4 linked regions of the Homo sapiens genome follow. The protein of the gene in region 4 interacts with the protein of the main gene of each other region in a pairwise test. Each region holds a gene or a part of one and is shown on either strand. Other genes may lie near its edges.

Region 1 (8,060 bases), on a different chromosome or scaffold from region 4:
ACCTGCCTGGGAACAGGGGTACAAGAAAGGTCTGCTGGAATACTTTTTTTTTTTTTTTTTTGAGACAGAATCTTGCTGTGTCGCCCAGGCTGGAGTGCAATGGCTCGATCTCGGCTCACTGCAACCTCCACCTCCCAGGTTCAAGCGATGCCTCCTCTCCTGTCGCAGCCTCTCGAGTAGCTGGGATTACAGGCGCCCGCCACCACACCCAGCTCATTTTTGTATTTTTAGTAGAGATGTGGTTTCACCATGTTGGGCAGGCTGGTCTCGAACTCCTGACCTCAAGTGATCCACCCACCTTGGCCTCCCAAAGTGTTGGGGTTATGGGCGTGAGCCACTGTGCCCAGCCTGGAATACTTGAAGTCTCATGTTTTATCTTAAAAATGCATGCAGATTTTTCATTCTGATTCATAAACGGTTGTGTTTGCAATTATTTATCAGAGTAGAGAACTGAGGAGCCAGACAGTTAAACTGATCTTGTGTGCCCAGCCACAAGACCACTTTACTTGAGATGGCCTTTGTAAGTCACCAAGAACTGATCTGAGTATACTTAGTACTATTCTCAAACTGATTACTTGTACAGCAATGTTGATTTTTAAAAAGAGAATACTACTAAGTATTGCTGTACAAGTAATCAATTCGAGGTGCACTATAAAGTGTGTTGTATTTTACTAATTAAACCACTGTTGGAGCTCCTCACTGTGCACTATGTGCCAGGTGCAGTGTCAGCAGATTGATCACAATAGATCCACTCCTTGCCTTCCTGAAGCTTACTTCTGGGTAGGGAGGCCGACACTAAAGAGTCAGATAACTATGTCTATAAAGTTGTGACAAGAGGTGTAAAGAAAGATAGCAGGCTAGAAAAGCCTGCAGGGAGAGAGCAGGTCAGAGCCCTCCTAGGCTCTCAGCACCAAGGGATTCCTGGGAAGTCTGACTTCCTAGGAAGAGTGCTCTGGAGGCAGCCTTCTGACGTGGAGGTTGTTGGTTACCAAGCATTTAAAGTGAAGTGAACTATTGTCACTCTGTCTTAGGATGACACAGTGCACTTTCCACAGGCCTGGGTAGGCCTAGGTATGGATTTTTGTACTGGAGATCAGACAGGTTGGTATTTAAAAACTGGTGGGGAGTGGGGGTGGTGGAGAGGTTGGGGAGGTGGCGGGCGACTAGGAGTGTGAAGGGGAGGGGGGATGGTGGTATTTGCTTTAGACGCATTATGCAGGAGGTGGGAACAGCAGGACTGAGGGGTGTGAGAGGTGCCTCTTCTCTCTGTTTTTCCTCCCTGATGTACACTCTTCACACTTGCCTAGAAATCAGTTAACAGGTGAGAACTGCTTTACAAATCTAGGCCTCAGTTGCTAAAGAACCAAACAGAAGCCCACTCTCTTTCCTGCCTGCCCTTCCCAGTCCCTGAAGGAGAAGGTGAATGCAGTATTCTCTGTTGGGGAGGGGCAAGTGAGGAGGTTGAACTGGAAGCCAGGAGTCCCCTCTGGCCCTCTGAGCTCGCCAAGCCTGACTTTCCGTTTAACAGGAGTAAGGGAGGTTACCCCACACCTGCTCCCGGCTCATCCCTGCCCCAGTGCCTGCTAATTGCTCCCATGCCCCTGTTCCCTTCTTTTTTTCCTCCCTTCGGGGGCTCAGCACAGCAAACAGGCAGATGGGGGAGAGGTGTGAGATTATCGTGGGGAGGGGAATGAATTTTCCATTATTAATAACAGCAACAACAACAACACTTCGCCTGTTGGCACAGCACTCACTAGTTTATCTAGTGCCGTCACACCTGTGATCTCTTTGGATCCCAGAGGTGCAGACTGAAACCCTGGGGTTCTGATTCCCAGCCTCTGACACTGTTCACATGTCCAAGCAGGCCACTTCTTTACAGACACACACATGCCCATCTGGCCATTGCCAAAGGCCATGTCTAGACCTTTACTTAAAATGTGCGCTGCCGGGCGCGGTGGCTCACGCCCGTAATCCCAGCACTTTGAGAGGCCGGGGCCGGCTGATCACCTGAGGTCAGGAGCTCCAGACCAGCCTGGCCAATATGGTGAAACCCCGTCTCTGTTAAAAATACAAAAATTAGCCGGGTGTGGTGGCGCATGCCTCTAATCCCAGCTATTCGGGAGGCTGAGGTAGGAGAATCGCTTGAACCCGGGAGGCGGAGGTTGCAGTGAGCCAAGATCGCGCCACTTCACTCCAGCCTGGGCAACAAGAGCGAAACTCCGTCTCAAACAAAACAAAACAAACAGAAAAAAATGTGCGCTAGCCCCCTACGAATGCTGCCCTCTCGGCTTATGTCAATCTCAATTTCAGTAAGTCCCCTCCACTTCTGTGAAACGTCTACCAAATACACTGGAAAAGGGTCGGCAAGGTGCCTTGGAGACCATCTAGTCCAACTTTGTCGCTGGTCCAGAGAGAAGGGCTGGGCCGAGGACACAGCTGGTGCGGGATAGAACCACCCCCGCCTCCTCCCTCCCTGGCGCACACATGCATGCACACGCGCGCCTGCTCACGGCGCTCCTCCTTCTCGCAATGCCCTAGGCAGCTGCAAACTTCGGTCCCCTAGAGCTTCTCCCTAGGGGCTGCCCACAGCGGGTGTTTCGGGAGTTGAACCTGTACACCTTGTTTTCCCCTTTAGAGTGGAATGAGGTGGGAGGAGCTCGCTGTCCTCCGGAAACTAGAGGGGGATCTTTTATGAAGTTACAAATCGTTAGCCTATGAAAACTCTGATTTCACACACGAGAGGCGAGTTGGCCCCAGGACACGGGCGTTGACACGCACCGGGTTGTCCCGGCAGCCGAAGGCACCTTTGCATAAGCGCCGCGTCTCCCAGTCCCCTCCGAGCGTTCCTCAGCCCCCGCCCCACCGCCCGCCTCTCTCCCTCCTCCTCTCCGGCTTCAGATCGTCCAGTCTCCCTTTCCCGCCCGGCGCCGCAACAAGTGCGGGCGTCGCGGCCCCTCTTACCCTGGCCTCGGTCCATGGCGCCGGCCCGGTCCCCGGGGAGCGGGCCGCAGGGCGCAGGGGCTCCGGCGCGGCTGGTAGCGGCCGGCGCGCTGCGCTCTCAGGCCAGCCCAGCGGCCGGCGCTCTCTGCGGTCCCCTCCCCCAGACAGGATGCTCGCCGGCAGCCCCCGCCCCGCCCGCGCCCGCGCCCGCCCCTCAGAGCCGCTCCCGGAATAGACCCGAGCACGCCTCGCCCCCTGGGCCGCAGCCCGCTGTCCCGTGGTGCCGCACACGCCCCGCCGCGCCCTGCCGCTCGCTCGCCCTCCGCGGCGCTCCCACTTGGGCTTGGAGGACCCTTTTCCCCGTCCGCACGCGTTCGTTCCCGCGCCCGCGCGGCCTGCCCCAGCCCGGACCCAGGAGGTGTGCGGCTTTGCTTGCACTCCGCTAGCGATGGGGTCTTACCACCGCACCCCTCAGCCGGCTCCATGCCGGAATGCGGAGACTGTTGGAGCGCGTTTTTATCCTAGGGAATCAAAACCCCCTTCCCTGCAGCCGCCACCCATTTCCTGGCTTTGGGCTTGTCTTCTCCATTCGCCGCGGGTCTTTCTTGAGCACCTTCTAAGCCAGACAGTGGGCCCGCGGCGATGCCGGTGCAATGTCAGTGGTGTTGCGAAAGAGGAGTTAAATAATAACAAAGATCTTCAGAAAGAAAAGCACCTGGGAAAGGGAGAAAGAGAGGCTTGCTGAAAGGTGGGCAAGGGCTTGGGACACTTTCAACTTTTGAGGTTCCTTGTGTACTAAAACGTGAAAACATAACGAGGATCTGGGAGAATTCAGAAAAAGAATAGAAAAATGAGTAACACGTGAAAACATGCAGAACAGGGTGATAAAAAATGTGGAAATGAATACTTTTAGCATACAAAATACAGTGCAATATAAGTGTACTTTTCGCAAGATTGTAGAAAATATTGCTATGACCAGTGTGGAACAGTAATGGGATCTAAGTTTAAAGCTGTATGAAGAATGTCAACTTCTTCACCTTATTAGTATATCCCTGTGAAAATAGGTCTCACTCATTTATACACAATATCAAATGTCTGACTTTAAGACCCTTCATAAAGTCCAGGACCAATTGTTCTCCTAGACACTGCTCCTCCCACCATGGGCCAGGCCATGGTTTTCAGCTTTGAGCTGACCACTGTTCCCTACTTAGAACATTCTGGAACAGGGAACAGCTACCACAGAGGTATGGAGGCAACAAAAGGCCTGGGAAAGACCCTCCTGTACTTTCCTGGACTGGGAATATTTTCTTTTCTTCTTTTTTTTTTTTCTTGAAAAGTCTCCCTTTGTCGCCGAGGCTGGAGTGCAGTGGCGCGATCTCGGCTCACTGCAACCTCTGCCTCCCGGGTTCAAGCAATTCTCCTGCCTCAGCCTCCTGAGTAGCTGGAATTACAGGCGCCCACCATCACTCCGGGCAAATTTTTGTATTTTTAGTAGAGACGACGTTTCGCCATGTTGGCCAGGCTGGTCTCGAACTCCTGACCTCAGGTGATCCACCTGCCTCGGCCTCCCAAAGTGCTGGGATTACAGGCGCCAGCCACCTAGCCTGGCCGGGAATATTTTCTCTATTGCTTTTATGGGCAAATTAAAATTAACATTTTCTTAAAATATTGCATCAGTAATTTAGTGTGTGTGTGTGTGAGCACTCAGACCAAATGTGATGTTGTGAACAGTGTATGAAAACTTGTGCATGGCTCTTGTTCTGTTAGTTTGGTGCAAAAGTAATAGTGGTTTTTGCCACTGAAAGTAATGGCAAAAAACGCTATTACTTTTGCTCCAATCTAAATACTACATAGTATAATAACTTTTCGTCAATGAGGTTTTCTTGCTCATCTGTGCTATGGGAAGCCTCATACTGTAAGTCCTCACAGGACTGTTGGTAGGGCAAATGAAATAATACAAACCCACTTTATAAACCACAAACAGCTATAAAATATGAGCCATTATTATTTTCTGAGTTCCTTTTTGTTGCTGTCCCCTTTTCCAATTTGAAAAGGTCAGTTTCAATTCTAAAGCAGCCAACCAACAATTTACCAGTGGATTAAGTTTTAAAAGTTTATTGTTTGAACTCTGAACACTTGGAAACAAGGCCATAAATTGTATTTTATTTTATTTTTTAATTATTATTATTATTATTTTTTGTATTTTAGTAGAGACGGGGTTTTACCATGTTGGCCAGGATGGCCTCGATCTCCTGACCTCGTGATCCACCCGCCTCAGCCTCCCAAAGTGCTGGGATTACAGGCGTGAGCCACCGCGCCCGGCCTCCCATAAATTGTATTTTAAGTTCTCAGGCTAGCTCACTAATTCTTCTAAAAACATAATATTTCATTTGAAATAATTTAGAAAAACAGTATGAAATGTTACTATTGCAAAAACAGACGGAGGCTTTTGTAAATATTTTTATTTTTATAATGTTTAAAAAAATATTTAAGATAGAGACAAGGTTTCACTATGTTGCCCAAGCTGGTCTCGAACTTCTGAGATCAAATGCTCCTCCGGCCTCGGCCTCCCAAAGTGCTAGGATGACAGGCATGAGCCTGTAGAGATGTTTAGAGAACTTTCAGAAACTTTCAAGGACTTTGGAGATATATTCAGAGAATTGGAACGAAAAAGTAAAAAAGGCTAAGGAAAATGGAATAATTTATGGAGTGGAATTAACTGAGCTGTGGTCTGGGAAGGATATAGAAATGGGAGAACACAGTCTGTGCACAGTTCTGAGAATCAACAAAAAATTGTTGCTGGCAAGGTATAGGGGTTCTGGTTTAAATAATTACCCATAATGTCCACTAGGTGGCAATGTTGACTAGTTGTCTACAGCTTGGTTGCTGTCAGAGTAACTGAGATGGATGAAAAAGTTATTTGCGGGTTTGGACAAGGAATAACTTTTTTTTTTTTCTGTATGTTTCCTTTAGTGAGTTCTATATTCCTCATAAAAACTAACAATCCACACTGCCCATAAATTCGCTTAGGCAATATTGATTGCACTCTGTGCAAGTTTCTATTGAGAGAAGAAATGCTAAGTAGGAATGATTCTCACCCTCAGGGAATCTACAATCTAGTAGAGGAGACAGACATGTATAAAATAATATAATATAAATTATTGTATGAAAAGTACCAGAGGAGAAATAAAGTGGTCTTGGAGTCCATCAGACAAAGTAAGACTTTTTTACTAATCATGGAGGCTGTAATGGATGACAGATATTTGGAAGGCAGGCAACTGAGAATGTGTAATGAGGAGATAACATTATGGGCAAAGAGCAGTGAGAGCAAAGACATTGAGCTCAAAGGCAGCAGGACGTGTCTGTGAAGCAGTTCAGGTTGGCTGGATCGTGGGTTATTGGGGGATAAGCATCAGGGCAAGGATAGGAATGAAGGTTGTGATACCTGCTTTTCTCTTCCCCTTTCCATTTCATTTTGAGTGCAACTCTCTGGCAAGGATTTTTAGAATCTGCCTCATATCTTCCTTTTCACTACCTACTTTGCTGACTTCCAAGTTTTCCAGGTTTGCCTGGATTTTGTCTAAAGAATGCTATGTGGGGAGCTCCAGCTCTGTAAGAAGGTATCAAATTTAGCCTTAGTGAACAATACCAGGAAGAAAGCTTTCAACTCCCTCCTGCTCCCTGTCTTGTGAAAACAAATGATACTCCCTAGTCTCATTCTTCGCTTATCAGGTGGAACTGGGAAACCCTGGGAAAGAAAAATTTGGAGGCTCAGGACTATTTGTTCCAGGGAGAGAAATATACTCTAGCCTCCTAACCTGTCACCTTACCTCTAGGGACTGTTTCCACCATGGCCAACAGAGCGACCATTCCATGATCCCAATCAGACCGTGCAACTACCCCCTTAAAAATATGTGATGGCTCCCCGGGCCCTCAGCGGAGAGTCCAGATTTCTTATTATGGTGTTTGGGGTGCCTTCTTCACTGAGCCTGCAGTGATCTCAGGAGACTTCAGGAAGAGTAAGAAAAACAACAGATGGGTGCTCAGATCTGGGTTCCTAAGTCAACTTCATTGCCGTGTGAATCTCAGTTCTTCCACTGGGTCAATAGTACATAATTTCTTATGTGCTTCTTTACCTATGCTTCCCTGTCCCCCACCAGACTGCAAATGCTGTGAGAGCGGGCGCTGTCTTACTCATTGCTAGATCCTTAGAATCTAGCACAGTGCCCAAACACCTAGTAAATGGTAATAGTATTTGTGGAATGAGTCAGTGAAAACATACTCAAGGGTGTGTAAGGCCTGCCAGTTTTGGCTTCTATTAATGCATGTGTCCTGGGGGTCCCATTTGTCCTCTGGGATTGTCGTATTTGCTTATTTATTTGCAGGGGGAAATGAACTTGTGACCAGGCCTTCTGGAGACATGCTGCTGTGCTGCCCAGCCCCTGTGTGCTGCTGTGGATGTGTGGCTTCTCCTTGGCTCAGGGCCCCTCTCCCATGCTCCTTTGTGTGGGGTGATCCCCAGAGCCCTCTGATCGGGTGTCTGCCTGATGCTGGCTGCAATGAAAACCTCTCTTGTTCCACTTAGCACAATGTTGCCATTATAGCCCCTATCCAGGGAAATGACACACGTCTGCTGGCCCACCCTGGGCCCCGGAAAGCAGATAGAGATCTCAGTGGCTGTTTCTGGGAGAAAGAGAAAGAGTTTCATGGATGGATGAAAACTCCTTCTTCCCATGCGCCTTCAGGTTTCTGCTCCAGGGCACGGGGCTCCTACTTGCATGGAGGCAACAGGGCTCAGCTTCCACAGTTGTTAAAACCAAGCCCAGTGGTTGTGTCTGAAGGAAAAGGAGCTTTTGTTTTATGCTGAAATGCTGCATGAAGCTTACTCCATCCCTTTGGATTCTTCTCCTTAAGCGAGATCTTAGGCTCCTGAAGCGAGGCTCGTGCCCTGAAGCACCTACAGGGCCGGGCAGGGAAGGGTGTGCAGGAAGCAGGCCATGCAAGTGGAGGGGCCACAGCAAAGCGGAGCCCTCTTGCTCCGTCTGAGGGGCCAGTCACCAGTCAGCTTGGAAATGGAGTGGCCAATCTTCAGCTTTTTCAGCAGAACCCAGAAATCTAGA
Region 2 (7,164 bases), on a different chromosome or scaffold from region 4:
CCGGGGCTCAGGTTACTGAGGCCCATCATCGGCTGTTCTGAGTACGAAGGCTGAGAGGGCGCTGGACCTTCCTGGGAAGTCTCTGCAGCTGTCATCGGGGAAGATTTGGAAGGCGATGCTGGATTCCGTTTCTGGAGTGGATCCATGGAGGTCTGGTCCCAGCTGGAAGCTCCGCCAGGCCCTCGGGTCCAGAAAAGGAGGTGAAGCTGGAGGTTCTCAGACACCAAGAAGGTGGCGAGGAATGTGTGCGGGCAGAACCCAGACTGCAACGCAAGGTGATAAGACAAGAAAACACAGAATTATTCATCTTACTCAACCTCTCTGTCCCTCCACTTCCTGTGTGTAGAATGGGGATTATAGAGAGACCCTGTCCTAGGCTTCTTCTGAGGATGACGTGAGATCATACATCTCACCAGCTTAGAATATTAATGCCATCTAATAAAGGATTTACAAATGATACCAATTAATGCATCCACGTGACACGGGGTGCAAAAGGATGCAATGCAGTTCGACGATGTCAATTCCCTGCTGACATTTTCCAACCCCTTCCCAAGCATCATTTGTAGAATAATCAATGTGTGACTCACAGGTGCTCTGCCCATGAGCGTTCATTTTCATCCACTCACAAGGGAGACTTTTACTCAACTGTAAGCGTTTGCACCATGGGGACACACCCTTTTGTATGTTCGCCTTCCTGACCACTGGGTTTGCATCTAGTCGAAAAGGCTGCTCATGCCTATGGAAATCGTTTCCAAATTCCTAGTGTGGATAAGAATTTATTTTGCTAAACAACAGAAGCATAAACCCCCAGGAGACTTCAAACAGAAAAACACATAGATGAATTCAATTAATCCAGGAAAAAAAAAAAAAAAAAAGCTGGTTCTTTGAAGTGATCAATGAAATTGATACACCCGTGGCAGGACTGGCTGGGAAAAAAGAGGGCAAAGAAACAAGTTACCAATATCAGGAATGCAAGAAGAGATTTCACTCCAGACCCAGAAAACATAAAAGGGTCAATATGGTAAGAATACACGCAACTCTACAGATTCACATTCCACAGGTCAGAGGAAATGTAGCACATACTTGAAAACCACAAGCTACGGAAACTCACACAGGATGGATTTCAAACACTGAACTGTGTGCACAGTCCTATATGTTTTAAAGAAGTTGAATTCACAGGCAAACACATTTGCAAAAAGATCTCTGGGCCAAGACAGTTTCACTGGCCAAGTCTACCAAACGTTTAATGAAGAAATATCACCAACTTACACAACTTCTTCTAGGAAACAAAGCAGAGGGAATGCGCCCCACTGATTTTATGAGGCCAGCACCACAGGGATACCAAGAAAAGGACAGACCAGTATTCTTTCCTAGTACAGGCACCAAAGTATTCAACAAAACCTTGCAGTTTGAATTGAGCAATATGTGAGAAGAATAATAAGCCACGATCAAGTGGGTTTTATAGCGGGAATGCAAGGGTTGTTCTTCCCACACCTGAAAATCAATCAATGTAACCCACAGATTGAGAGATCAGATGAAGAACAAAAATGACAGGATCACATCAAGCTATGCAGAAAAACCCTTTGATAAGATTCAAAGTCCACTGGTGATATAAAAGCTCTAGCACACTAGGAACACAAGACAACTTCCTCAACCTGAAAAAGGGCGTGTACAGTCAAACCTACAACTAACAAGCCACTTAATGGTCAACGACTGGATGCTTTCTGCCTAAGGATGCGAACCAGGCAAGGACGTCCACTCTCACCACAGCTATTCAACGTCACGCTGAGGCCCAGTCAGTGCTATAATGCCAGAAGAATCACGGCACACACCGGAGAAAGCAAGAAACCAAAGTACTCCTTTTCATGGGTCCTGTGATCGTCTACATGAAACAACCAGTGTATCTCCCCCAGACTCTCAGAGCTAATAAGAGCTTAGTGCTCATTAATGAGAGCTTAGCAGCAATACAGGAGAGAAACTCAACACACGGAAAACAATCCTATGCGTAACTGGAAACCTAAATTTAAGAAATAATACTGTTTTACAAAAGCTACAAACACAATGCAATGGTTATGTATAAAGCTAAAATACGTGGACGGGGTCTGTATGCCCAAAACTATTAAACGGTAATGAAAAAATCAAAGAAGATTTAGTTAAATGGAGAGAAACAATGTGTTCCCATATTTAAAGACCCAAAAAAGTTAACAGTCCATTGTCCCCAACTTGATCTGTAGAATGAATGCAGTGCCTGCCAATCAGAATCCTTGAGGGACATTTGCATGCATAAACAAGCAGATTCTACAATTCACGTGGAATATCTGATGTTTCAAAAAGCAGAAGGTATTTTAGAGAGATGATATTATCAGATTTTCAGATTTGCTCTAAAGCTGTAATAATCGAGATTGCTGGCTTACAGGGGTAGACGAGTAGATCCATGGAATAAAATAGAGTCCATGAATCCATCCATAGAAATGTGTCCAGTGAGTTTTGACATGGGTGTGAGAGGGAATCCAATGGAGAAGGGATAAGCTTTTCAATACATGAGGTGGCCTATCCTTACGCAAAAAGATGCACCTCAACCTCAACCTTTACACGCAATTAAGGAAAAAGGGTTCAGAGACCTACACGCCAAAGTTCAATACTATGACTTTTGGTAGAAACCGTAGGAGGACATCTTTGTGAGGGGAGGCTAGGACATGACCTGAGATGCATGATCCATGGAAAGGAAAGATGGATGGATAGGAGTTTGGCAAAATTTAAAACTCTGGCTCTGGCCGGGCGTGGTGGCTCCTGCCTGTAATCCCAACACTTCGGGAGGCCAAGGTGGGCAGATCACTAGAGTTCAGTTGTTCGAGACCAGCCTGGCCAACATGGTGAAACCCTGTCTCTACCAAAAAATACAAAAATTACCTGGCATGGTGGGACATACCTGTAGTCCCCAGCTACTGGGGAGGCTGAGGCAGGAGAATTGCTCGACCCAGGAGGCAGAGGCTGCAGTGAGCCGAGATCGAGCCACTGCCCTCCAGTCTGGGCGACATAGCGAGCCCCTGTCTCTAAATAAATAAATAGAACAGAATAGAACAGAATAGAATAGGATAGATAGAATAGAATAGGATACGATACGATACTATACGATAATATACGATACGATACGATACAATACAATACAATACAACACAATACAACACAATACAATACAACACAACTTTGGCTGTGTAAGAGCCAGTGTGTTCAGAGAATGAAAATCAAAGCTGCACCACTAGGAGGAAATGTTTGAGAATCACCAACCTGACAGATCTTATATCCAAAACACATGGCGCGTTTTCAAAACTCCACAATAAGAAAATCAACACCCCAACTAGAAAATGGGGGAAAGACTTGAATGGGAGCGCAAGAAACCATATTTAACATCATTCAGCATTAGGGGAATGCAAATTAACACCATGGAGACTGGCAAGGCCAAGCGAGAACATGTTGGGTGACTGGAACTCTCACACTTTGCAGCTGGGAGGGCGAAATAGCACAGCAACTTTGAGAAGCAGTTTGGCAGTTTCTTGTAAGTCAAACAGATGTTTACCATAGGACCCAGCCATCCCACTCCTGGGTATCTACCCTAGAGAAATGAAAACTTAGGTTCACAAAAAAGCCCGCACTGAATTGTAAAAGCAGCTCGATGCGAAACTGCCCCACACTGGACAGAGGAAAATGTCATTCAGTAGAAGGATGGCTGAACACCTGTGGTCTTCCACACCGTGAAACTGCCTTCATGAAAAAACAACAGCCTGTGACAGAGGCATCTGACACTCATCCGAGATGTTCATCGGGCCAAAAGAAGGAAGCCCGCCTCACAAGGCCACAAACTGTATGGTGTCATTGACATAACACTCTCCCCAAGACAAAACTAGAGGGAAGGAAACAGATCACTTTACACCAGGGATGATGGATGAAGAAGGGGTAACCGCAATGGGGCAGTTCCAGGGAGTGTCCTGCGGTGATGGGACTGTTCTGGATCCCGACTGTGGTGGTGGTGACAAGAATGTATGCCCGTGTCAAAGCTCACAGAACTGTACTCCTGAGGGAAAAAAGTCAATCTTGCTGTAGGTTAAGTGGAAAAACCCAACGGCATATTTTGCGATAAGGGTATCTCTCTGTACTGTTTTGATAAATACATCTTGGATGAGTGCAACCAAAAATTGACATTAAATGCTAAATGGAAACTTTAGATCAGCCTCCCAGGCTCTATTCTTTTGACAAACGTGGAAACCAAGAATTCACTAGTTTTCTTCAGAGGATACTGGTCCTCTGAATGTTTATTCACCAAATCGTGGCTATCAGCCCACACTGGGGCAAGAAAGACAGAACCGTAACAGGAACAGTTTGAATATGTACTGAACACAAACATATATAAACACACACACACACACATCCCAGAAAGAGTTCTTAACTTTTCAGAAATTGCAATCTATCTTTCCTACGAGTTAGTTCCCTGACATCCTTTGGGCCACCACTATCTGACACAAACAGTTAATGTGTGAAACGTTTGGAAAATGATCTTAACCCAATTATCTCCCAGCCAATTCTCATGTGTCACAAGGACTCTCTCAGGATCTATTTCTACATGTAGAAAGCCAATTCTCAGAGAGAGAAAAGACCTTACGACCCCCACCCCCCACGTTTCTTTTGCTGTTTTGTTTGTTTGTTTGAGGCAGGGACTCGCTCTGTTACCTAGTCTGGTGTGCAGTGGCAAAACCTCGGCTCATTGAAACCTCTGCTTCCTGGGCTCAAGGGATCCTCCAGTCTCAGACGCCTGAGCAGCTTGCACTACAGGCGTGAGCCACCATGCCCGGCTAATTTTTGTATTTTTTGTAGAGACGGGGTTTTGCCATGTTGCCTAGGCTGGTCTGGAACTCCTGAGCTCCACATGATCTGCATGCCTCAGCCTCCCAGAGTGCTGGGATTATAGGCGTGAGCCACTGTTCCCAGCCAGAAACACTTTTATGAGAAGAAATGTGAGCCGGGTGTGGTGGCTCATGCCTGCAATCCCAGCACTTTGGAAGGCCGAGGCAGGCAGATCACCTGAGGTCAGGGGTTTGAGACCAGCCTGGCCAACATGGCGAAACGCCATCTCTACGGAAAATACAAAAAAATTAGCTGGGTGTGGTGGTGGGCACCTGTAATCCCAGGTAATAGAGAGGTTGAGGCAGGAGAATCACTTGAACCCAGGAGGCGGAGGTTGCAGTAAGCCGAGATTGCACCACTGCACTCCAGTCTGGGCAACGGAGCAAGACTCTGTCTCAAAAAAAAAAAAAAAAAAAAAAAAAAAAAGAAAAAGAAAAAAAAGAAATAGGAAGATTCTGGAGACATCAACTGACAACCGGCCTGCATAGTCATCGCTCTCTTTTCTCTCTTTCTCCCTCCAGCAATTTTGTGAAATGAAACATTTTACCGTCCTATGTGTAGGTTCATCCAGAGATTCTCAAACCACACCCATGGAGTTGCTCATGATCCCTGACAGAGGCATTAAGGACAGTGAGGCCTAGAGAAGTCCGTTGTGTGTGCGGAGGGGAGCAGCTGCAGCAATACATGTGACTTCCCTTCCTTCATCATCTCACCAATGTCATTTCTTCAACAGGCACTTGCCCCCAGGTAAAAGACCTTGTATCAAAAATCTCTGCATGAAACACCACAGCCTCAAGTTTCCTGCATCATGTCATGCAGCTACCGAAGAGAGAGAAGGACTACTGGAGACAGGGAACCCAGACAGTTTACCGGTCAGACCTTCAGCATGAGAGGTGATGTCTCTGGGTACCAATCCCTCACTGTGATGGTTTTATCGGTCAACTCGGCCAGGCTTGGTGCCTGGTCCCTTTTGGTCAAATGCTACTCTAGTTGTTGCTGGGAAGGTATTTGTGGACATGATTAACATTTACAATCACGCTGGGCACAGTGGCTCACGCCTGTAATCCCTGCTTCGGGAGGCTGAGGCGGGTGGATCACTTGAGGTCAGCAGTTCGAGAGCAGCCTGGCCACCGGGGTGAAACCCCATCTCTACTAAAAATAAAAATTAGCCGGGTATAGTGATGGGTGCCTGTAGTTTGGGACTGCCATGGCCCTTGGCAAGACTTTCACCTCTCATTCACCCTGCATGACTCAGCTGAGATAGCACTTCTCCCAGGAAGCCTTCTCCAAGCTCCTAAAACGCCCTGTATTTCCCCTGTCCCAGCCCCAATCCCACTCAGCTGTCAACAGATGGTTATTTCTCTGTCAACCCACTAGCCCAGGAGCTGACAGAGGCCAGGGACTTTGTCTTGTTCACCCATCACAGAGCCTTGAGCCCAGTGGACATTCACAAATATCTATCAAATGAAACAAGAAGGATGTGGGGCCCGTGATAAACATCTCACTGAGAATGTCAAGTCAACCCTGCAGAATCCATATTTTCCCACGTTGCAAAGGCAGAAATTCCTGCATGGAGAGGTCAAGTAACTTCCCTCAGATCACACAACCACTCAGGGACAGAATTCCCTCCCAGGTCTCCCTGACTGCAGATGAACACACCCCTGGTGGCATTGCCTCTCTGGGTGTTCAGCCTCCCCTGATACCTAAGCGAGAAAGTAATCCTGAGGGAAGAGTTCAGACAGCAGAGTCCTAGGGGCTGACCCGCATGTCCACAGCTGCCCGGGGATCGGGTGCAATGCTGCGAATCCTTACCGTCACTTCCTCCTGGCCAGTTCTGTTCCCATGCCAGAAATGCTGCACCAAACGCACCTCTCACACTCCCCACTCTCATTCGCTTCAATTCTCCTGTGCGGAAGGAGAAAGAGAACAGCTAAGCAAGTGAATCCAGACGACACCCTGCAGATGAGCGCCAGGAAGAGCTTTGTGTTTCTTTTCAAAATTAAGCCAGTCCCATGTGATGCTTTTTTCAATCTTCCACAATAATATGAGATAATAAAATGCATTTATTTCAGTTTAAAGATACAGATTTCATTTAATAATCCCAATTAAATATGGACTTTTTTTTTTTTTTTTGAGACAGTCTCACTGTGTCGCCCAGGCTGGAGTGCAGTGGCATGATCTCAGCTCACTGCAACCTCCGTCTCCTGGTTTAAAGCAATTCTCCTGCCTCAGCCTCCGGAGTAGCTGGGATTACAAGCACCCGCC
Region 3 (7,164 bases), on a different chromosome or scaffold from region 4:
ATCCACCCACCTCAGCCTTGCAAAGTGCTGGATTACAGGTGTGAGCCACCGTGCCCGGCCTCTTTCTTTTTTCCTGAGACAGAATCTGACTATGTCACCCAGGCTGGAGTATAGTCATAGCTCACTGCATCCTTGAACTCCTGGGCTCAAGTAATCCTCCCACCTCAGTCTCCCAGGTAGTTGGGACTACAGGCACGTGCCAACAAGCCCAGCTAATTTTGTATTTTTTCCTTTTTTTTTTTAACTGAAATTACATAACTGAGATAATTTTTGTCTTTTTGTAGAGACAGGATCTCACTGTGTTGCCCAGGCTGGTCTTGAACTCCTCAAGTGATTGCCTCAAGTGATCCTCCTGCCTCAGCCTCCCAAAGTGCTGAGATTAGAGGCATAACCCACTGCAACTGGCCTGAAGTGAATATTTCTTTTAAATTGTGTTGAGCATAGACCATAGGGAAGCAAGGGTGGAAGCAGAGAGACTGGTTAGGAAACTAAAGTAATAATCCAGGTGACAGAATCTGGATACATTTTGATAGTATAGCCAACAGACTTTGCTGACAGATTGTGTGAGAGTAAGAGTCAAAAATGGCTTCAAAGTTTCTAACCTGAGTAACTAGAATGGAGGAAGTGCCATTTACTATTATGGGAAAATCTGCAGATTTGTGAATGGGAGAGAGAGGAAAGGTTGGTATTTTAGCTTGGCCACGTTAAGTTTGAGATGCCTCTAAGAAATTCACATTGAGATGTGGAGGTGGAGGAGGCAGTTGAATAAATGAGTCCAGAAGTGAGGAGAAAGATCTGGCAATAGATATAATTTTGGATTTTATAGTAGTGTTTTGATAGGAGTTGTTGATATCACCAAAAGTGATATTCTATGGAGTTTGGGTGGATTTGGAGTTCTCTGCAAAGGTGACTGAAGGAGCAGCCAGTGAGCAGAGAAAAACCCACTGTTCAGTAGGTGTTCTAGAAGCAAAATGAAGAAAGTAATTAAGGAGGAAGGAAAAATAAGTTATGTTAAATGTTGCTGTAGGTCAAATGAGATGAGGATTCATAATTGACCAGTACATTTAGCAACATGGAGGTCATTGGGATCTTGATAAGAAACTTTTGGTGGAGTAAAGGGTACAAAAGCCAGATGGGTACTTTTATTTATTTATTTATTTTTATTTATTTATTTATTTTTGAGAAGGAGTTTTTGCTCTTGTTGCCCAGGCTGGAGTGCAGTGGCGCTATCTCGGCTTATTGCAAGCTCCGCCTCCCAGGTTCAAGTGATTCTCCTGCCTCAGCCTCCTGAGTAGCTGGGACTACAGACACCCGCCACCATGCCCGGCTAATTTTTGTATTTTTAGTAGAGACAGGGTTTCACCATGTTGGGCAGGATGGTCTCGATCTCCTGACCTCGTGATCCACCCGCCTCGGCCTCCCAAAGTGCTGGGATTACAGGCGTGAGCCACCGTGCCCAACAATGGGTACTTTTATTTAGTAGAGTATGGGAGACAGCGAGTATGGATGCAGCACTCTTTTACTGTGTTCTTTGTCCAGATTGTTCTAGCCTGTCTTTAACTCCTCTTCTTGCAGGTCTTTGCTCAAATAATCATTTTCTCAGAGGTGTCCCTGATCTAATTAAATACTCTTCTTGTAAATAGACCTATTGCACCGTAAACCTTGAGTTGCTCTTATGTTACCAATTAGTTTTGCAGTTGTGCCATGATTTGATTAAAGTGTGTTTATTTCAGTAGAGCTTAAGCACACAAGAGGAACTACTGTGCTTGTTTTTGTTGATCATCTTATCTCTACCTCTGAGTACAGTGCCTGGTACCTAGTACAAACTTAATAAATGTGTGACGCAAGAATAAAGGAATGAATGAATGGAAGAATGATATAATGCCACAGAACTTTCAAAGGTATGGCATATTTATCTATCATTTACAAAAACACAAAGTAATTAATGGATGGACGAGGGTACATTATAATAAAAACATTTTAGAAAGTTCGTCCTAAAAAAAACAAAGCCGGGCACAGTGGCTTATGCCTATAATCCTAGCACTTTGGGAGGCTGAGGTGGGCCGATCACTTGAGGTCAGGAGTTTGAGACCAGCTCGGCCAAGATGGTGAAACCCCGTCTCTACTGAAAATACAAAAATTAGCCAGGCGTGGTGGTGGGCGCCTGTAATTCCAGCTACTTGGGAGGCTGAGGCAGGAGAATCGCTTGAACCCAGGAGGCAGAGGTTGCAGTGAGCTGAGATCGTTCCATTGCACTCTAGCCTGAGTGACAGAGTGAGATTGTCTCAAAAAAAAAAAAAAAAAAAAGAAGAAAGAAAGAAAGTTTACAGAATCTGTAGCCTAGGAAATGTAATTACTGGTCACATAAAATTTTATTTAATGTGATACAGTTTCACATTGTTTAATTCAGAGTTCTTATATTCATAATGTCTGCTTTTTGGCTGGGCATGGTGGCTCACACCTGTAATCCCAGCACTTTGGGAGGCTGAGGCAGGTGGATCACCTGAGGTCAGAAGTTCGAGACCATCCTGGCCAACATGGTGAAAGTCCATCTCTACTAAAAGTACAAAAATTAGCCAGGCATCATGGCACACGCCTCTAGTCCCAACTACTCAGGAGGCTGAGGCAGGAGAATCGCCTGAGCCTGGGAGGCAGAGGTTGCAGTGAGCCAAGATCGCACCACTGCACTCCAGTCTGGGCGACAGAGTATGACTCTGTCTTAGGAAAAAAACAAAACAAAACAGTCTGCCTTTTTTGCTGCAACATATCAATAGATGTTATGGAATTTAGAAGAACTTCTTTAGATCAGTAAATTTTCACAGTTACATTTTAGAAGAGTAATTAATTAGGGAACAGATATTGAGAGGTTTTGCTAACTTTGGTCATGGACCATGGAATCATGCAGTATGTTGCCTTTTAGACTGGCTCCTTTACTTAGCAATGTGCATTTATAGTTATTTTATGTCTTTATATGTATGGCTTGGGAGCTCATTTGTTTTTATCACTGAAAAATAATCCATTGTATGGATATATCACAGTTTGCTTATTCACCTTTTGAAGGACATCTTAGTTGCTTCCAGTTTTTATCAATTATGAATAAAGTGTCCTAAAAATTTATGTGCAGGCTTTTTCTGGGCAAAAAATTTTTAACTCATCTAGGAATATGATTGCTGGATCTCAGGTAACCCTATGTTTAGCTTTGTAAGAAACTCACAGCTGTTTTTCTTTTTCTTTTTTCTTTTTTTTTTTTTTTGAGACGGAGTCTCACTCTTTCGCACAGGCTGGACTGCAGTGGCGCCATCTCGGCTCACTGCAAACTCCGCTGCCGGGTTCACGCCATTCTCCTGCCTCAGCCTCCTGAGTAGCTGGGATTACAGGCGCCCGCCACCGCGCCCGGCTAATGTTTTGTATTTTTAGTAGAGACGGGGTTTCACCGTGTTAGCCAAGATGGTCTCGATCTCCTGATCTCGTGATCCGCCCGCCTCGGCCTCCCAAAGTGCTGGGATTATAGGCGTGAGCCACCGCGCCCAGCCATACAGCTGTTTTTCAAAGCAGCAGTACCATTTTCTATTTCCCACCAATGAATGAGAGTTCCTGTTGCGCCCCACCTTTGCCAGGATTTGGTGGTATCAGTGTTTTGGACTTTAGCTGTTCTAATAGGTATGTAATGGTATCTCATTATTGTTTTAATTGGTGATTCCCCAATGACATATGTTGAGCATCTTTTCATACGCCTATTTGCTGCCTGTGTATCATGTTTGGTGAGGTGTCTTTTCAGATCTTTTGTCCATTTTTAAATTATTATTACTGTTGAGTGTTTTTGTTTTTTAGAGGCAGGGTCTCCCTAGGTCACCCAGGTTGGAGTGCAGTGTTGCTTTCATAGATCACTGTAACCTCAAACCCCTTGGCTCAAGCAGTCCTGCCTCAGCCTCCGAAGTAGCTAGAACTACAGGCATGCACCTCCACGCTCAGCTTACTATTGAGTTTTAAGAGTGCTTTGTATATTTTGGACACACAAGTCCTATATCAGACCTGCATTTTGTAAATATTTTCTCCAAGTCTGTGGCTTGTCTGTTCATTCTTTAATAGTGTCTTTTGCAAAGCAGAAATTTTTAATTTTAGTGAAGTCCAGCTTTCATGTATCATGCTTTTCGTGTTGTAGCTAAAAAGTCATTGCCATACCCAGGGTCATGTAGATTTTCTCCTGTCTTCCAGAACTTTTACAGCTTTGTGTTTTGCATATAGGTTTATGATCCATTTTTTAGTTTTTTTTTTGTAAAAGGTATAAGGTCTGTGCCTAGATTTATGTTTTTATTAAAAAGTTTCTGCTGGATCTGAAATTATTATTTTGATCAATAATATTAAAAGGTGAAAAACTTTTTTTTAAAGACCATTATACTGAATCTGTACAACTATATTGGTGCCATTCTTCAAAACTGTTCCTTGAGAGAGAGACCTGAAGTCAGCCTAAAGATGAGGCCAGGGAGAACTTTATCTGGAATGTATCAGGAAACCGGACTAACAGTTCCATTTTAGTTATCTGTTGTCAGCATGTGCAGTTGGCTGAGTGCTGTAAGTGAAAATTGTTAGGAAGACTTTCTACAATTAAGAATATTATTCTCCAATTGAATTACCTTGTTACTTGTCTACATTGCTGGTTTTTGTTTTTGTTTTTTTGCTACTTTTTTGCCTAGTCTTACAAGGTTGCAAAAATCAACCTGTGATTTTTCCACAATAGTTTGACCCTTCTCTACAATGAAACACTGAAGCCATGTAAACTTAAAATATCTCTTTCTATGATAACTGACTTCAACTTAAGTTTTTAAAGGAAATTATACTAATTATTTACTGTATAGTAGCATAAGCAGTTTTGCCTCTAAATGCTTCCTTAGTTTTTCTTTTGGCTTGTTGAAAAATGTCTTGTCAACCAAGTACTATATGTGTACTTTTATGTGTGGGGTATATGTGTATTGCCCAAATGAATCATAAAGGCTCTTAATTTGAATCTGTATATTTTATTTTTAAGTTTTCCTTAACAAGGTCGATTTGAATTCCTTAACAAGATTGATTTGAATGATATTCTTTTCAGCCCTTCAAAAACATATTTTCTGAAACACTGTCATACATACTATTCTCAGAATACCATGCCCCTTTTTTCTATGTTATTTTGGTTCCATCTTTCAGGAATAAATGAGTAAACCACTTAAATCAAGTTTACTCTTCAGTATTTTCTCCAGTTTTTCTGTTTTTGGTGTCTCCAAATTTACTATAGTATGCTTTGAATGACTAAATCTCTAGTATTTCTGACATATATTAATGGATAGATTTTTAAAAACCAATAATTGTTGAATCTATTTTCATTTTGCTCTTCTTGAAAGATTTGTGAGCGAGCTCTAGCAATATACGCAACATACAATATGAATTTTATAAACCAGTCTCACTACTGATTTTATTCTTATTTTTCTACTTATTTTCCTTATCCACATTTTACATGAATATATACATATATAGGGGTAAGATATTAAAATTATATGTCATTTTTAAAAGCATTACATATTTCAAACAAAAAATAAGAGTAACAAAATAAATACCCTTTTAAACTACCCCTTGGAATGAACAAATGTTAACATTTTACCTAGTTTGCTTTAGTTTTTGTTTTTTTTTTTTTCAATGAAATGAAATATCACATAGGTTGTGAAAGTGCTCTTGGCACAGTCATATATTGTCTTTGTCTTTTAAAAAAATGTTACATAGAAGATATCTTACTATCTGTAACTTACTTTCTGTTTTACTCAACAATATATTTTCAGAGCTTATCTGTGTTGCTAAATGTAGATCTTGTTTTCAAATTTTAGCTGGTGTATAGTGTTTCATTGTATGAATATGATACAACTTATTTATCCAGTCCCTATTAATGTATATTTATTTAAAAAAAAAATTTTTTTCTGTTGCAATCAGTGCAGCAGTGAACATCATTATACATATGTCCAGATATGTGCCATTTTCTCTAGGGTTCACTCATAAATTCGGAGAAGTGGAATTGCTGAGTTATAGGATATACACAGGATCACATTTTTCAAGTTATGTTTTGTTTTACCAGTTTACACTCCCACTGGCAGTTCATGGGAATTTTCATTTCCCCACATCCTTGACAAAACTTAATATTGATAGGCGTGTTTTTTTGTTTGTTTTTTGTTTGTTTGTTTTGTTTTGTGAGACAGAATCCCACTCTGTTGCCCAGACCAGAGTGCAGTGGCACAATCACAGCCCACTGCAAGCCTCAACCTCCCGGGCTCAAACGATCCTCCCACCTCTGCCCTACAAGTAGCTGGGAACACATGTGTGTGCCACCACACCCAGCTAATTAAAAAATTTTTTTTTTGTAGAGACAGGGTCTCACAGTATTGCCCAGGCTGATCTTGAACTCCTGGGCTCAAGAAGTCCTCCCACCTCAGCCTCCCAAAGTGCTAGGATTACAGACATGAGCCACTGCACTGGGTCCTGATAGGCTTCTTTTAAAATTTTTTTCAATCTAATGGGTGTAAAATAATTTCTGTATTGTTTAAATTTGCATTTTCCTGATCAATGAAGTAGAACGTTTTTGTCCTTTTAGCTATTCGTGTTTTCTTGTCTTTTAACTTCCATTGTACCTTTTGTTCCTTTGTTAATTGACCTTTGTGTTTTTCTTAATAATTTATAGGATAGAACTTGTTTCTGTATTTCAGATACTAATCTTTTATGTTATATATGTTTCTTTTTTAAAGATATCATCAATGATGTTTTTTGTTATACAGACATTTTAATTTTTATATAGTTTTATCATTTTTTCTTTTTTATTTGTAAATTGTCTTGTTTTAAGAAATCTCTTCTTACCCAAAGTCTGAAACGTACTCTATATTTTCTTCTAAAACAAAGGTTTGTTGTTCACGTATAGATGTTCAGTCTAGCTAGAATTTATTTTTGTGTTTGGCATGGAGTAGAGATATATGTTTATATTTTACCGTGTGGATAGCACTGTATAGTGAATATTGGCATAGTGAATATTGAATAGCCAATCCTTTCTCCATGTAAATGCCCTCTTTTTCATATACCAAATTCCCACATATGTAAAAGTTTATTTACTCTCTTTTCTTTTGTATCAGTCCCTTTTGTCTCACCTCAGGC
Region 4 (7,061 bases):
CCTCAGAATTGCTCATGCCTATTTATATAGATGCTGCCTTCCAATTTTTTCTCAGATCTTCCAAGTTCTATCACAGCCATGACAAAGTAATGACTCATACTTAAATGCAGTCATCAATGTCATATTTGGTATTAGTACCTTTGTAGCATTGCTTTGTGTCAGAGCATTTAAGAGGAAAAAGTCCCCAAGAGCAGGAGCAGTCTGCCACCATCCTCAGGGACCACAAAGGGCAGGGCCTGCAGAAGGCAATGCTCATTGTGCAGGAAAGCCTGAGGCCTCCTGCAAGCTGTTCAGATAAGCAGCTGTAGGAGGGAGGGGGAGGAGGGCCGAGGAGGGGGAGGGGAGGCACAGGTCACTGTTATCGCCTTGGAAGGCAAGACTTCAGCTGCTGCACTGTCTTATCTCAAGTATGCTCCTGTTTTGCAAGTTTAAAATCTTCCTAAAAGGAGAAAAGTAGGAGCCAGGCTCAAGTTCTACCCTAGCACTGGGCAGCATGCCCTCCCTCTGCCAGAGGGGAGGAGCCTGTCATTCTTGCCCGACAGGAAGACGGAACAGGTGCCATCAGTTCCACGGAGTTCCAGCAATCCTCTGAAACCCTGCACGCCACCTCCCCCGACACAAAGATCCCCTACCCTCAATAAAGAGCATAAGTTTGTTTCAAAAAGTTTATTGTAAAATTCAAAGCTTCAACAGCAGCATCCTTTAGAAAACGAAGCATTGCCCGGATCCGTTTTGAAAAAGCAGCGCAGTCGGCTAAGTCCTTCACGCTCCTGCAACTGTACCAAGTCCAGGGCGCCGCTCCTTCCTGCCGAGCGCAGGCTGCTGAGTCACGCCTGCCCGGCCAGTCTGTCCTTCCTGGCCCTGAGGCCAACGTCCTAGCCTAGGCCTTCCTGGGCGAGCAGCCGCTCCAGACACTTGCAGAGTCCTCAGCTCGGACCAGCCTGGCCCTGCCGCCACCGGGCCCCTCCTCGGGAGGCCGCGCCTCCTCGCTCTCCAGGCGCCCCCCCCGCCTGCCAGTCTCCACGCCGCACTCGGGCACCCTCGGAGGGCCCCTCCACAGAGCCAGCCGCGCTCTAGGCGCCCCGGGGCGTCACCACGTCGATCAGACCAAGGTCCCCGCCGGGCTGTCACTCGGGGAGGGTGATGCTGGGCACCCAGTCGTTAACGCTGCGGCTCTCCTCGCAAAACAGGCTGAGCTTCTCCAAGGCGGGATCCTTCCAGGCGTCCTCGTTGGGGTTCTGCGGAGAGAGAGCAGGGTCAGCCTGGCTGGCCGCGGGCCGAGGCGGGAACGACACTGGGGCGGGGACAGGACGGGACTGTACTCACCGAAATGAGGATGCAGTGCAGGTCGCCCGGCGCACCCGCCTCCTCGCCGGCGCCCACGATAGCCGCCAGCCGCTGCACATCGCCCACGCGCACTATGTCGATGTCGTTCTCGCAGCAGAAAGCCTGGATCAGCGTAAAATGGATCTGCAGCGCGATGTCGCCCTCGTCCTCCTCACCCGCAGCCAGCACACAGAAGGTCACATTGTCGGGGTCCCTGCGAGGGCAAGGCGGGGACCTAGGTCAGAACCGGCTAGCCGAGTTCTCCCGCCGCCACCCCTCCCATCCGCCAGTCTCCTCGCCATTCACCCCCGCCCCTGTCTCCCAGCCTGGGCCGCGTCTACACTTACACGTTCAAGACTTTGGCTGACTCGTAGACGCCGGCAGTGAGGCAGCCCTGACGCTGCGCCGACAGCAGCAACTCATGCAGCGCTTTCCCGGCACCCTGCATCCTGCGGAGGAGCCAGCGCAGTGAGCGGGAGCCGGCCGGAGGGCGCGGCGGAGACCCCAGCCCCGGCCACCGGCACACACCCTTGGCTCCCCAACTCCAACCACACTCCAATCCCGGCTCAGCGCCTGCACCCCGGCTCTCCAACCGGGATCTGGCGCCCGGACCCCCGCGCTCCCCTCCTACCCCGCGGATTCCCACCCTGGAAAACCCTGACGGTCGCCGACCGACCAGCGGCTTTCTCAGCGCCCTGAAACCCACCTGGCTGTGCTTTCCGGAACTGTGTCCTGGCCGCGGACTTCTTCCAGAGTCATAGTGCGATCAACCAGCAGCTAGTTATCCACAAGCGGAGAGCGCGGAGGGGACGCGGGCGAACACACTGACAGCCAGAGCTCAGCACGGCGCGCCCACCACCAGCGAGTGCGCCCCTACTACGCTGCGCGCCCTTATATAGGCTGGTGGGTGCGGCGCCGCCAGCTGGCGCGAGGCTGCGCGCCTATTGGCCGGCACCCGCTTTCTGATGTAAATGAGGCGGCGAGCCAGCGGCTCGTGCCAGAAGGCCACGTGGGGAGGGGTGCGGGGGATGACAATGCCTCAAATCTGCCGCTTTTGTTGGGGTGTTACCAGGCAGACTGGAGCCTGCAGATTTCATCTCGCCTGGCTTTTTTTTTTTTTTGAAGTCCTTAAAAGGAAAAAGTAAAAAAAAAAAAAAAAGAAAAAACCCAACCCACAAAAACCTTGTTTGCTTATATGATGCTGCAATTTGCGAAAAGCACCTTTATAGAAGCAAAGGGATTTTTTTTTGCATTTTGTATTGCTACCTTTCTATTTGTTTCTTTTCTTTAATTTGAAGTCTATGAGACTGTTGCATTGGAGCCAGAAATTAAGGTAAAAACAGGTAGCGCCAGTTAGAGGCTTGCAAAAGGCAGTGGGCACAGCCCCCTGCAGCTGACCACTAGCGTCCCGAGCGCGCTGGTGATGCCTGCCAGGCATACTCAATGTGTACATTGAGCCGTCTCTGGAAGATCCCACCCCACCTCCCCGCCCTTGGCCGAGCGCGGCGGGGCGCGGGAGACGGGGGCGGGCGGGGACGAGCAGATTGCGGCCGGCGCACGCCGCTCGTTTGCATTTCTATGGAGGGCGCACAATAGCAGAGGTCTGGCGTGTGGCGGTTTGCTGTAGGGACAATCGAGGCTTTCTCTTCATAGCAACACTGTCCACCTGCCGCCGGGTGGGGTGGGCAGGACCCCGCCGCGCGTGGGGGTCGCCGGGCTGCCTGGCGCGTGGGGTCGAGGCTGAGTGCCACTCCGTGGTCCCTGAGTGCACGCCCCCAGTACTGGCCCTGCTACAAGTAATTCCCTTCCATCCGTTCCTCGCACGGGTGCCGAACAGCCGCGCGAGTTGGGAAGGACGGAGAGCTGCTGTGCAGTCTTCGCGGCTGGACGCCCTGTGGCCGGGACCCCGCGGCTGCAGCCCCTGGAGCTTAGGTAATGCAGCTCGGAATCTTTCCCGGGGCGCCATCTGCAGGCAGGTTAAAAAGATCCTGAACCCCTTTTGTCCTCCCCTCCCCCCAACACACACACCCTTGCATTGGCCTGGCGCGGGGGAAGGGCGGTGGAGAGGGACGGCCACGGAGCTGCCCGGCCGGGCCCAGTGAGCCCTGTCCAAGCTGCGCATAAATAGAACCCGAGTAAGGGCTGCAAAACGCATTCAGGTGGGACTGCAGTTACCCTGGGGAGTAGAGGGCAAAAGGAAATTCCCATCCAGTACTGATGGAGTAAGAGCCCCTACGTCTTATACCATGTTGAAATATCTTAATTACTTAAATGCGCATATGTAAAAAGCCTTTTTTCCGGCAATGGAATAAGTCTGGAAGAGATCTTGGGAGAGTTTAATAGGCTAGAGGTTGCTGCCGTTTGACCATACACGCTGGCACTTTCAGAGGATTCACCCACTGAGCACCTTCTGTGCTACGTGAAAAGGCGCGCTGGGGGACACCTCATTGCTTCCTTTTTTTGGGTGAAGCCTTGGAGACTGGCCAGGACAGTGGCGGGCCGGGTGGATTGGATGGAAACCCGGGCCCTGCCGCAAGACTGGGGCGATAATGGGAAAGTAAACAACGCCGTGGCTTTGTTCCTTTCATTCAGGCTTTCTTCAGGTGGGTGGTGAATGTACAAGGTACTTCTGAATTTGTTATGGGGAAGTTTCCATTCTGCGCTTGCAGGCAGGCACTTCTGCCAAGGTGAGAAGCTGGCGTCTTGCGCCCCCCAGCGGCTTCCTGGCAGAGGAGAGCTGCAAAAGCCCGGCCCTTCCTGGATTCTAAGAATGAAGAGCTTGCTCTCCTAGCATTTCTGAACTCCAGAGGTGTCTCCTAAGGACGGGGGGAGAGGGGAGGGGGAAGCGGAGCCAGGCGGCATTATGCCCCGTTTGTTCGCTAGTTTCTTTTCTTTCTTGATGTATAAAATGATGATATGCCTTGATTGGATAAAATATGTTAATTTTAAGTGATTGGAATATAGGTATTACTCTTTTAAAACTATTAAACTTTTCTTTTCTTTTCTTTTCTTTTTTGAGACGGAGTCTCGCTCGGTTGCCCAGGCTGGAGTGCGGTGGCACAATCTCGGCTCACTGCAACCTCCGCCTCCCGGGTTCAAGCGATCCTTCTGCTTCAGCCTCCCGAGTAGCTGGGACTACAGGTGCGCCACCACGCCGGGCTAATTTTTGTATTTTTAGTAGAAACAGAGTTTCACCATGTTGGCCAGGCTGGTCTCAAACTCCTGACCTCGTGATCCACCCACCTCGGCCTCCCAAAGTGCTGGGATTACAGGCATGAGCAACCGCACCCGGCCTACTATTAAACATTTCTTAAAATGTATTAGTCCCAGGTCCCCAGGACATGCTGGAAATAAGATTTACTTAACATGCTAGCACCCACCTCTCCAATTTATGACGCTAAAAATCTGCCTACATGCCAGGCCAGAGAAAACAAAGGCTAGGCCTGAAGCCTCAGCCCCTCCTCCGAGAGGAAGGCCACTAATGAACACTCCCGGCTTCGAGTTGGGGGTGGGTGCATTTCCAGTCCCTCCTGAGCTAGCCTGGACCAGAAGAGATGATTGACGACCCCTGGGGCTGTTCTACTCTGCTCACATTTTTAAAGTATTCAATTTCAGGAAACTGCCTTTTTGACATATGATACAGCCTCACTTTGCTTTGTTATGTCAGTCCCAATGGCCCCAAAGCCCCCATCTCAATTGGGAAGAACAATTTTGTCTGCAGGCAAAGGTGGCCTTCCAGCAGACCCACCACCACCCTTCAGTTCAGACACATGCTGAAGCTTCTGGGCCTGGGATGCCCCTGTGTTGAGGAGTGGGCAATGCCCACTAGAAGTTTGAGGATCCAGAATATCCCACTACACGGCTTTGTGGCCACAGCTCTCCCAAATTGCATGCAGCAAGGGACTTGGCCTGCTCTGTGCTTCAGGTCACAGGTGGCTGAGATGTTGTCCTGAGCTTCCTGTGACTGCACCCCTAAACCTTCCCCTAAATCTCAATAATGCAGGTGATGGTGACTTACTTAAAGGGATATCCTCAGAGATGCTCTATTCTAAAACCTTTTTGGAAATGTTTATAGTTGAACTGTTTTTATTAACACATTCTCTAAAATGTGCTTCTCATTCTTCCATGGCTTGACTAGGTCATTGATGGGCAGATGTCTTTCATTTGGGTACAGAAGGAAATGAGCTTTAAGTAAGCAGTAAGCTTTATGAGATATTCTTTGTTGTATTTTCACAAGTTACTTATGTGTGGAGAGTGCACAACATTGTTATTAAATAGCAGGTGTATGCCCTTATCCTACCCAAACAATGTGCCAGAATCCACGACCAGTCAGCCAGAGGCTGTGGGATGCAAAGCTGGCTACGCACCAGCCCCTTGCAGACTGCACGTGGGATTTCTTTGGCCTATGAGGCGTCTTAGGCAAAGTCAAATTCACTGCCACTTTTCAAAGTTAGCTGCATTCATATAAACATCTGGATTTCTAGCTTCTCTTGGAAAATGGGTAGATTTGGCCATGATGTGCCTAGAGTCCCCTCCCCACCTTGGTAACCTTCAGCAGGGGTCGGGGGCACTGGGATCCCGCATTGGGCACTGCTCTCCCATTCACCTCAATCCCCACCAGACCCCAGCTGAGGACACCTGGCTGCTTTGTTCATTTACATCACCCTCCTGTCACCTGCAGACATTTGCGCTTACAATCAAGAAACTGAAGTTTGAAGCACAAAATAAAGGGGCCAAGTTCCTAAAGATGAAGCCAAAAAGGTTGAGCATCATTTGTGTCTCAGCTTGTGCAGGACAGTGTCCTATGTCAGCACAGGGCTCTTGGAGCACTCTGGGCTGGCCCGTTTCCAAAAGGTTTCATGTTGCCCTCACTATTCTCCCTCGTCCAGCCCCTTCTCGGGCCAGAACAAGTCTCCTCGGGGGTCCTCTGTTGGGTTTTCTTCGGTCCAAAAAAGCTCTTGAATGATAGGGGGCAGCAGCAACTCAGTGACAATAGTACATTAACTCAAAAGGAAGCCAGGTTTTCATGCAGGACACATAAAAGCTATTACTTAAAACCCAACAGGTGCATCTCAGATGCCTTCCAGCATGTGAAGGACACCATTGCATTGGCTCTCACCACCACCATGCCCTCCTCCTTACCCAGGGTGAAGCATGAATCTGCACATGGGGAGGCTTCAGAGGACAACTGAGACAAGAAGCAGGAAGCTGAGAAAGGAGGACACCTCCCACACACACATCTAGCAAAAGCTGGACATTTCTGGTCAGTCATCCTTATGCAAAGACTTTCTGGAAGGAGCAGTTATTCTTGGGTGAGCACTTATGTAGCATGAAAGAGGTTAACATTAGCCCAGGGAAATCCTTCAAAGTAATTGAGGGGGAAGGATACATTATTTATGCATTTGTTCCCTTCTCTATCGACAGTAAGAAATGATTCATGGCACCTGTCACAGTCCTAGGTAGTGACAGACACCAGCCTGCACTGTAGCTGAAAACCCCTGAGAAGCCACAGATGTGCAGTCTTCCCAGCTTGACTACATGCCCAAGTCTTCTGAACCTTAGTTTCCCAACCTAGGAAATAAAAATTGTGCCCTTTACCCCTCATGAACCTTATTGGGGTCTTATAAGATTGCTCCTGGTTGCCATTTGGCCCACAGATGGGTTTAGTTTGGTGGACAGTGTCCCGAAAGACTTACAAATTCAGATCTGACTTGTTCATTTGTGTAGGGGAGAGT

The links.
Region 1: the proteins of GADD45G (region 4) and AFAP1L1 interact in binary tests that used the Homo sapiens proteins (3 or more experiments, as listed by UniProt).
Region 2: the proteins of GADD45G (region 4) and FAM156A interact in binary tests that used the Homo sapiens proteins (3 or more experiments, as listed by UniProt).
Region 3: the proteins of GADD45G (region 4) and CEP57L1 interact in binary tests that used the Homo sapiens proteins (3 or more experiments, as listed by UniProt).

What each region holds. Positions count from the first base shown.
Region 1 is NC_000005.10:149,266,886-149,274,945, reverse strand, and holds the start of AFAP1L1 (actin filament-associated protein 1-like 1), read right to left. Parts: upstream 3,088-8,060; 5' UTR 2,978-3,087; coding exon 2,962-2,977; intron 1-2,961. UniProt on the Homo sapiens protein: May be involved in podosome and invadosome formation.
Region 2 is NC_000023.11:52,948,443-52,955,606, forward strand, and holds part of FAM156A (protein FAM156A/FAM156B), read right to left. Parts: intron 6,805-7,164; 5' UTR 6,712-6,804; intron 264-6,711; 5' UTR 147-263; coding exon 1-146.
Region 3 is NC_000006.12:109,098,386-109,105,549, forward strand, and holds part of CEP57L1 (centrosomal protein CEP57L1), read left to right. Parts: intron 1-1,806; exon of another isoform or gene 1,807-1,901; intron 1,902-7,164. UniProt on the Homo sapiens protein: Centrosomal protein which may be required for microtubule attachment to centrosomes.
Region 4 is NC_000009.12:89,600,146-89,607,206, reverse strand, and holds GADD45G (growth arrest and DNA damage-inducible protein GADD45 gamma), read right to left. Parts: upstream 2,196-7,061; 5' UTR 2,086-2,195; coding exon 2,033-2,085; intron 1,776-2,032; coding exon 1,674-1,775; intron 1,541-1,673; coding exon 1,327-1,540; intron 1,239-1,326; coding exon 1,128-1,238; 3' UTR 652-1,127; downstream 1-651. UniProt on the Homo sapiens protein: Involved in the regulation of growth and apoptosis. Mediates activation of stress-responsive MTK1/MEKK4 MAPKKK.